Linked DNA regions of Homo sapiens. The protein of the gene in region 2 interacts with the protein of the main gene of each other region in a biochemical or structural test. Each region holds a gene or a part of one and is shown on either strand. Other genes may lie near its edges.

Region 1 (3,500 bases), on a different chromosome or scaffold from region 2:
AGGAGTCTGAGGCAGGAGAATCGCTTGAACCCGGGAGGCAGAGCTTGCAGTGAGCAGAGATCGCGCCACTGCACTCCAGCCTGGGTGACAGAGAGAGAAAAAAAACAAAGCCATGTGATTCCCAGTGCGGAAGGTGGCCCTGTAGGGAGGTAACTGGACCACAGAGTTGAACACTTCATGGATGGTCTAGCACCACCCCCCGGATAAGTGAGTTCTTGTTCTGAGTTCACACAAGTTCTGGTTGTTTAAAGCTGTGTGGCAGCCCCCTCACTCTCTTGCTCCCTCTCGCCATATAATTCACTGGCCCCCCTTTGTCTTCTGCCACGATTGTAAGCTTCCTGAGGCCCTTACCAGAAGCAGATACCAGCACTATGCTTCCTGTACAGCCTGAGGAACCATATGCCAAAATAAATTTTCTTTACAAATTACCCAGCTTCAGGTATTTCTTTATAGCAATGCAAGAACAGACTAACAGTAGTTAACGGAGGACTCTCTGAGTAATATTTAGGTTGGGATCTGAAAAATGAGGGTAAACTATTTGAGGCAGAAAGGAACAGCTAATTCAGGTCCCTAAGGTGAAGCCCTAAGTTAACCGTATATTATGCAATAACAGTTCCCACAAGAAAAAAACTACCCCAAATACAGTGGTCTCACTGTAATCATCTACCAGGTGGATAAAAATCATCTACCTGGCCGGGCGTGATGGCTCACGCCTGTAATCCCAGCACTTTGGGAGGCTGAGGCGGGCAGACTACCGGAGGTCAGGAATTTGAGACCAGCTTGGCCAAGATGGTGAAACCCTGACTCTACTAAAATACAAAATTAGGCAGGTGTGGTCGTGGGCACCTGTAATCCCAGCTACCTGGGAGGCTGAGGCAGGAGAATTGCTTGAACCCAGGAGGTGGAGGTTACAGTAAGCCGAGATCGCGCCACTGCACTCCAGCCTGGGTGACAGAGCTAGACTCGTGTCTCCAAAACAAAAAAAATCTACCTAAACAGGTGATTTTTCCTAATAGCTACCTTAGAGAGACACAAGGAATGAATTTTAAAAGATGCCCACAAGATAGCAAGTGGCTTATTTTTTATTTTTTGAGATAGGGTTTCACTCTGTCGCCCAGGCTGGAGTACACTGGTGTGATCCCTGCTCACTGTGGCCTCAAATTCCTGGGCTCAAGTGATCCTCCTGCCTCAGCCTCCTGAGTACCTGGGACTACAGCTGCACACCACTATGCCCAATTAATTTAAAAAAAAAAAATTGTAGAGACAGGGTCTCATCTTACCCAGGCTGGTCTCAAACTCCTTGGCTAAACTGATCCTCCCACCTCTGCCTCCCAGAGTGCTGGGATTATGGATCTGAGCCACCACATCCAGCCAGCTAGTGACCTTTTTAAACATATAATTCCATCACATTACATCCTTACTTAAAACTGCTCAATGGCCTTTTTTTGCATTCTGAAGAAATTCTAAACTTCTTTTCATGGTCTGTAGGCCCTGATTCATCTGTTCCTTGCTGAGCTTTTTGATCTCAACCTTATTCTACTCTCTACTTTGCTCAAAACATGCCAGCCATATGGGCCTTCTTAAAGTGCTCTTATATATGCTGGGAGACAGTTCTCTATTGGTCTCTCCATTCTGCAAGCTGGGAGCAGAGACACTAAACTGCCTTTGTTCTAGGCTATCTTTCCAAAGCCGTTTCAGCCTCATAAGACAAAGCAGCACAGGACAGGCAGGTTTACTGCCAGTTATAAGGCTGAGGTGGCCTGAACATGGAGTTCCTCTCCTCTAACGTAACACACTCAATGTACAAGGCTTCACCTTACCCTCTTCTTAGCTGCCCCATAGGAAGTGGGGCTAAGGGAACCAAAAGAAATGCTGATACTCTGGCTACGCTATTGCTATGAATAAGAAACTGTCCTTTAGGAGTCTCTTGTCTTCTGCCAGCATCCATGAATTCATGGCAGGCTAACAAGTTAGCTTCAAAGTAGAGTAAGATCTCAAACCGTTCAGAGTTCTTCAGCTGTTCTCAGGTTACATACCCTGAACATACTCATCTCTTCTGTCTGAAATACTCTCCTTCTACTTCTAGGTCAATGATTTCATGTTTCTTTCAGAAATTCACTTCTGTGTTGTATTCCCAGAGGTATGTGCCCTCCCAACCCAAAAACATCCTTTTTATTCCTAGAATTATCAAATTGTATATTTGTGTTTATGTGTTTATCTCCCCCATTTGAAAGCACAGATATTTGTTTTGTTCACAGCTGTATATTCAGAGCCTAGCCCAGTGCCTGACACATATTTGACTGACTAGATAAATGCTCCTAAGTCCCTCTCCCTTTCTTTAAACAGAATTACAGAAGCAGATTTTTAAATGAATGCTTTTGTAACTAAAGACCTGAACTATCACCTTAGTAGTTTTAAATAAGGTCTAAGTTCAATGTAAAAGCTTAAGAATCCCAGCTTTTCCTGCATCCAAAATGCTCCCTCAGGGAAGATTCTGAAAGGAGGCTCACTAGACTTCTGTTATGTCCACAGCATTTCCTTACCGGACATCAGCAGCCAAGCAAAACTAATAAAACTTAATCCTGTTGGATATTTTTGTTTCTCCTGCACTGCTGGGGCATAACGAGCAGAGGCAGCATTGGACAGGATTGTATTTGTTTATCTTCCTCAGGACCAGAAAAAATAGAGGATGCTGCATATATTGTTCTTACTTAAATTCATTTACAATTATTCAGGGAATTTTATTAAAAATAACAGATTCGGCCGGGTGCAGTGGCTCACGCCTCTAATCCCAGCACTTTGGGAGGCCGAGGCGGGCAGATCACAAGGTCAGGAGTTCGAGACCAGCCTGGCCAACATGGTAAAACCCCGTCTCTACTAAAAATACAAAAATTAGCCGGGTGTGGTGATGGGTGCCTGTAATCCCAGCTACTTGGGAGGCTGAGGCAGGAGAATTGCTTGAACTCAGGAGGCGGAAGTTGCAGTGAGCTGAGATTGCGCCACTGCACTCCAGCCCGGGTAACAGCACAAGACTCCATCTTGAAAAAAAAAAAAAAAAAGACAGATTCCTCTTTCCTATTTATCACCTGTAGAAGTACAAAAATTACTTTTTTGGGGAGCTACTTTTTAAAGAAAGATTTATTTTCCAGTTGTTTAAAATGCTAGTCAAAAAACCCCAAAATCAAACTAAACACACAAAAACAACACCAGTCACATCCCAACAATGTGAATTCTGAAATAATTATCATTGTTTAAGTCACCCTAGGAATATCAGACTGACATATTACACTTGAAGCTCAGGACATGAAGTGAATAACCACCATTACTAGACTGAAATGACTATGTACTCTTAGAATTTCATAAATAATTTTCACTTTTTTTCTTTTTATATTTTTAGTAGAGACAGGGTTTCACCATGTTGGCCAGGCTTGTCTCAAACACCTGACCTGAGGTGATCTGCCCACCCCGGCCTCCCAAAGTGCTGGGATTACACGTGAGCC
Region 2 (5,711 bases):
CTTGCAGGATTGTGTGGAGCTGGGTGGCTGTCTGTGTGATGACTAATTTTATGTGTCAACTTGACTGGGCCACAGGGTGCCCAGATATTTGTCAAACATTATTCTGGGTGTGTCTGTGGGGGTGTTTCTGAATGAGATTAACCTTTAAATCAGTAGACTAAGTAAAGCAGGCAGCCCTTCCTAATGTGTGTGGGCCCCATCCAATCAGTTGAAGGCCTGCATAGAACAAAAAGGCTGATTCTCTACCCCAAGCAAGGGGCCATTCCTTCTTACTGACTGCCTTTGAGCTGGGACATTGTTTTCTTCTTGCCTTCTGACTTGAAATGAAACATTGGCTCTTCCTGGGGCTTGAGCCTGCTGGCCTTCCTACCAGAACTGCACCATGGTGCTCCTGAATCTCCAGCTTGCTGACTCACCCTGCGGACATGGGACTTTTCAGCCTTCATAAATGCGTGAGCCGGTTCCCTACAAGAAATCTCTCTCTCTCTGTATATATATGTACACATATAAATATACACACATGCACACACACACACGCACACACACACCCTATTGGCTCTGTTTCTCTGGAGAACCCTGACAGACACAGCCAGGACAGTGTGTTGGGAGTTGTGTGAGGTGGAGCTGTGGCCCAGGGGCATTGTTCTGGTGTTGACACATCTTTGAGTGGCCACATGTTGGGTGCTGGGACTGAGGACAGCACAAGGCCTCCTTATTTGACCGGGTAGATGGGGGAGGGACAGAGTGGAGGCTTCTTTCCCTGTCCTTTGGGGAATCCCAATTCTACTCCCTCATTCTGGGAGTTTGGAGGACTGAGCAGCCTCCTTTCCTAGGAGGGCAGTCCTTAGGCCGGCCTGCTACAACCATCCTCCTTGAGTAAGCCTGGGGCCTGGGCACATGACGTGGAAGCCTGCTCTTCCCTTCCCAGCAGCTCCACAGGCTATTGGCCAATTCCTGATGACTCAATGGGAGCTGAACCTCGAGGCAGGTGGACAAGTGCACTTTCCTGGAGCAGTTCTCTAGGGCCCACAGTTCCCACACTCAGGATCCCCAGTCTTTGTGTAACTCCATGGAGATGAGCCAGGTGAAAACATCGAGGGATGTTTCTGCTTGTCCACTATCCAGAAAAGGGGCTGAGGAGCAAGGGGTCAGGGAGATGCTGCCTTCCCAGGCTGTGAGGAGATCCTGAAGCATCCGGGGAAGGGTGTCTCTGCCCAGAGGTTTGCTGCCTGGACCCTCTGAAAGTCCCCTCAAACTCCTCTCACCTTTCCCCCAATTCTGACACATCTTCTTCATTAGTGGAAAGGGCACTGGGCTAGTAGGTAGGAGATTTGACAGCATTGACTATATCACTGTTTCTGGGTGACCTTAGGTAAGTTGCTCTCCCCTGGTTTGTTCACCTGTAATGTGGGAATAATAATCAAATCAAATAATAATCAAATCTGATTATTCTAAGATGCAGTGAGATAATGTAGGTGAAAGTGTTTTTGGAAAATTTATGCAGTGCTACACAAGTACAAGGTATTATTATTATTGTAATTGAATAACTCTGAGCTCTTCCTCTTTGCTCACAGCAACCCTTGGTCTTTTCATATGCTTCCTCGTAGGAAGACCAAAACCAGTGCTTTTAAATCTTTAATATGCAAACGAATCACTTGGGATCTTGTTAAACTGCAGATTCTGATTCAGTAGGTCAGAGTAGGCCTAGATTCTGCATTTTCATCCTCCCGGGTGATACCAGTATTTCTGGTCTGGGGACCTGAACTATCCCTTCATAGGAAAAGAGATCCAAATCTTTCTATAATGTATTGAAAAGAAACAGTTTAGAAAATACAGTAGAAGTATGGGCTTATTAAAATAGCTTGTAGTCAAAGATAGTTATTGATCACAAAAGATACATTTTGATCTTTGGAAAGATGAAATGAGAGAAGGGAGAGGGAAAGAGGAAGGAATGAAGGGAGGAAGGGAAGGCAGAAGGAAGAGAGAGAGGAGGGGAGAAAGCGAGAGAGAGAGAGAGAGAAGAGAGAAGAGAGACAGGATGGACCCAAGAAGCCCTGGACTGATCATTTCCTAGACTTCTCTGTGGAACAGCCACCATTGGTCTTATTAAGAGAGTCTGTGCTGCCCATTCTTGAGCCTACACTGTTGAGGATTCTTTCAATTTCTCCTGGGATGTTCTGCTTTTCTTCATTCTCAGTCTCCCGGTGGTAGAAGTAATTGAAGTTGGAGACAATGACAGGCACAGGGAGGGCAATGGTGAGGACCCCTGCAATGGCACACAGAGTGCCCACAATCTTCCCCCCTGGGGTGGTCGGGCACATGTCCCCATAGCCTACAGTTGTCATGGTGACCACTGCCCACCAGAAGCCATCAGGAATGCTAGAGAAATGGGACTCTGGCTCATCCACCTCAGCAAAGTAGACTGCACTGGAGAAGAGGATGACTCCAATGAAGAGAAAGAAGATGAGCAACCCCAACTCCCGCATGGACGCCTTCAGTGTTTGCCCGAGGATCTGCAGCCCCTTGGAGTGGCGCGAGAGCTTGAAGATGCGGAAGACCCTCACCAGGCGGATGATCCTCAGGATGGCCAGGGACATGTTCTGTTGGGCACTCGGCTCTGTCTCCTGGACTAGCTCTGTGATGAGAGTTGCAAAGTAGGGGATAATGGAGATGATGTCAATGATGTTCATGATGTTCCTGAAGAAGTCAGTCTTGCTGGGGCAGACCACGAACCGGAGCACCAGCTCGAAGGTGAACCACACGATGCAGGTAGACTCCACCATGAAGAAAGGGTCGGTGAACATGGTCTGGGAGAGGACTGTCTTGCTCATGTTGAGATTGGGGTCTCTGACCACCTTTAGCTCCCTATCCTCCCGGAACTCTGGCAGTGTCTCCAGGCAGAAGATGGTGATGGAGATGACCACAACCAACACCGAGACCACGGCCACAGCACGGGCAGCGCTGGAACTTTCAGGGTACTCAAAGAGGAGCCAGAACTGACGGTGGATGTCATTGGTGGGTAGCAGTGTTTCAGGGTCTTTGATGAAGCCTTCATCCTCCCGGAACTGGTCCATGGCCTCACTACCCAGCTCATAGAAGGAGATTTCATCAGCAAAGATATCAATGGGAACATTGGCTGGGCGCCGAATTTTCCCACCAGATTGGTAATAATATAGGATTCCATCAAAACTGGGCCGGTTCCGATCAAAGAAATACTCATTTCTCATGGAGTCAAAGAACTGCATCCTTTTTTCCCGGTCTCCCAGGAGAGTCTCTGGGAACTGACTAAGGGTTCTGAGCTGGGTCTCAAATCTCAGCCCAGCAATGTTGATGATCACCCGCTGGTTTCCTTCATTTAGGACCACTGGCTCAGGCCCTGGGGGGTCAGCATAGTCTCCCGGAAGCTTGGAGAAGGCCGTCTCATGGTTGGTGCTTTCGCTGATGAGGATCTTCCCGTTGGAGAAGGAGCTGCCCCCAGGCCGGCCTTTTGGGCTGGTTGAGTCGAAGTCTGTGGCATAGCCTGGCTCTTCTTGGATTTCATCTGAATTATCAAAATTGACCAGCGCAACCTCCATTTCTTTCCAGCCACACACATCCATTCTAGGGGAGCCAGGGAAGAAGCATGAAGATCCTCAGCCTTCACTGCCTGCTGTGAGCTATGGAGAAGAAGAAGTTCATTATACAAGATCCAGGGCAGAATACAACTGGCCCTTGTTTATTGAGGTAAGGTACACCAATGGGCTAATCAATGACTTATTTGTAGCTTGGGAAGGAACGTCATGGTTATTTTGGCAGCATGCTTCCCTTAAAATCATTTTGTACCCCTGAGTTTGCATAAACTAATAACTAGGAGAAATTGCAAAAAAAGGATCCTGGCAAAGAAGGGGAGATTCTCCCCAGCAAAGGATGGTCTCCATATGTGATGGCAGAGGGGCCATACTAAAAGAGGAAGTTAACATTCCTTAATAATAAAAAGCATGATCTTGTATTTGCATGAAGCCTTCTGTCTCACCAAACACGTCTCCATGCCCAATCTCATTCGTAATGCCTCTCTTTCACACCAACAGCCAGTCCCTCACACATCCTTTTGGTCATGTCTTCAAAATATATCTAGAATTCAACCATTTTGCATCACTTCCACCCCTGCTTCTGGACCAAGTGGTGAAGGGTGGAACCAGATCTATGAACCCAATGGGGATTCTTTAGGGAAGGAAAAACAAGACGCTGGGTTGGCCAATCGACAATGTCCTCTAAATGACCCCTCACCTGGAAATAACTCCTAGAGTTGTTTTGAAGGTACCTCAAATGAGATAACACGTATGGAATGCTTGGTGGAAAGAAAGATCACTATATTATAGCTATTGTTTTTTGTCAACTTTCCCACATAACAAGCACTTTAGAAACTACCAGCAATTGGAATTTTTTTTGGCCTGAGTCCAAGGTGTCCATAGGAAGTAATTTCATTTTGAGAAATCATTTTAGGTGGGAAGGAAGTAAATAATTGTGTGTGTCTGTGTGTGTGTGTGTATATGTGTGTGTGTGTGTGTGTGTGTGCGCGCGCACGCTGGAGGTGGGGTTAGGAAATCATGCCCAGTGGGCTTGGACATCTATACACATAGACTAATATTTCTTTCCTCAGGTTCATTCTAGCTTCAGTTTCAATTTAAGAACACTGAACCCAGGCAGGCTGGGGGTGGGAGTGGGAGAGAAGTAAGGGACTTAACCTCAGGCAAAATCTGTAGTGGTCACAGCCTTGGAGAGGTTTCCTTTACAGGCGACAAGGCTATCCTGCAGTGTAGTGTTGTAGTCTTTTCAAAGTGATTCCACATTCACTTATCTCACTAGATGACAATAATCACGTGAGGTTAGATGTTATCTCTGTTTTGCAGATGCGGAAACCAAGTCACAGGGACAAAGTGACTTCCTAAGGTCACATAACTAGTGCTACAGAGTCCTGACCTAAACCTGGCCATGGCCTTCTGGCCCAGGGCCTTTCCCACTAGACCATGGAGTCCCTATATAGGAGCTGAGCCTTGTGGGGAGCTGTAGGCTAGGGCCACAGAATTGTCAGGGGTCCAGAGCTCTTTCCATCCCATGACCCCTTTTCTCAGTTCAGGTGCCATGTGTTGAATGATGAGCTCAAGTCTGGTTGGTCAGCACTGGTAGAGTACCCATTCTACCTCTCAGGAGTATGTGGCCATTGCAAACGGCCTAATTTCACGGAGCTGCTGCTTCCTCAGTTGTGGAATGAGGAAGGATGTACCCACTGCCAAGCATGCCAGGTGCCAGCCTGCTCTGCAAGGCTCGGTGAGCAGTAGGATGGCTGGGAGGCAGGATGGAATCTGAGAATAGAATCAGTCCACCCGAGTTCAAATCCTGGCTCTGTACATGGTAAAGCCCTGGAGAAATGTAGCTTCACAGTAATTCGCATGATGATTTGGGGGCCTTGTCCTGAACTGCTTGGCAGCTGGATGGCTGTGGGTGGGGGACTCCAGCTCTGTGTTGATCTCATGTCTTCGGAGCACCATTTTCTCCTTTGGGGTCTTGGACCGCAGATGGTGCTCCCTGATGATTATCTTCCAGGTGTGAATCAGTCCCGCTTTCTGAGAGGAATGAGTACCATCAGTGAGCTTTGGGCAAGGTTTGGGAACCACTTCCATGGTTCTAGCCAAGGCTAGAGTGACCCTTATCAGGAACTTCTCTGGAGGCCA

Evidence for each region. Proteins that work in one complex are often made in the same cells at the same time.
Region 1: the proteins of KCNA10 (region 2) and POMP form a complex in vitro, tested with the Homo sapiens proteins (one study listed by BioGRID).

What each region holds. Positions count from the first base shown.
Region 1 is NC_000013.11:28,672,630-28,676,129, reverse strand, and holds part of POMP (proteasome maturation protein), read right to left. Parts: intron 1-3,500. UniProt on the Homo sapiens protein: Molecular chaperone essential for the assembly of standard proteasomes and immunoproteasomes. Degraded after completion of proteasome maturation. Mediates the association of 20S preproteasome with the endoplasmic reticulum.
Region 2 is NC_000001.11:110,515,189-110,520,899, forward strand, and holds KCNA10 (potassium voltage-gated channel subfamily A member 10), read right to left. Parts: upstream 3,988-5,711; 5' UTR 3,600-3,987; coding exon 2,064-3,599; 3' UTR 2,029-2,063; downstream 1-2,028. UniProt on the Homo sapiens protein: Voltage-gated potassium ion channel that mediates K(+) permeability of excitable membranes.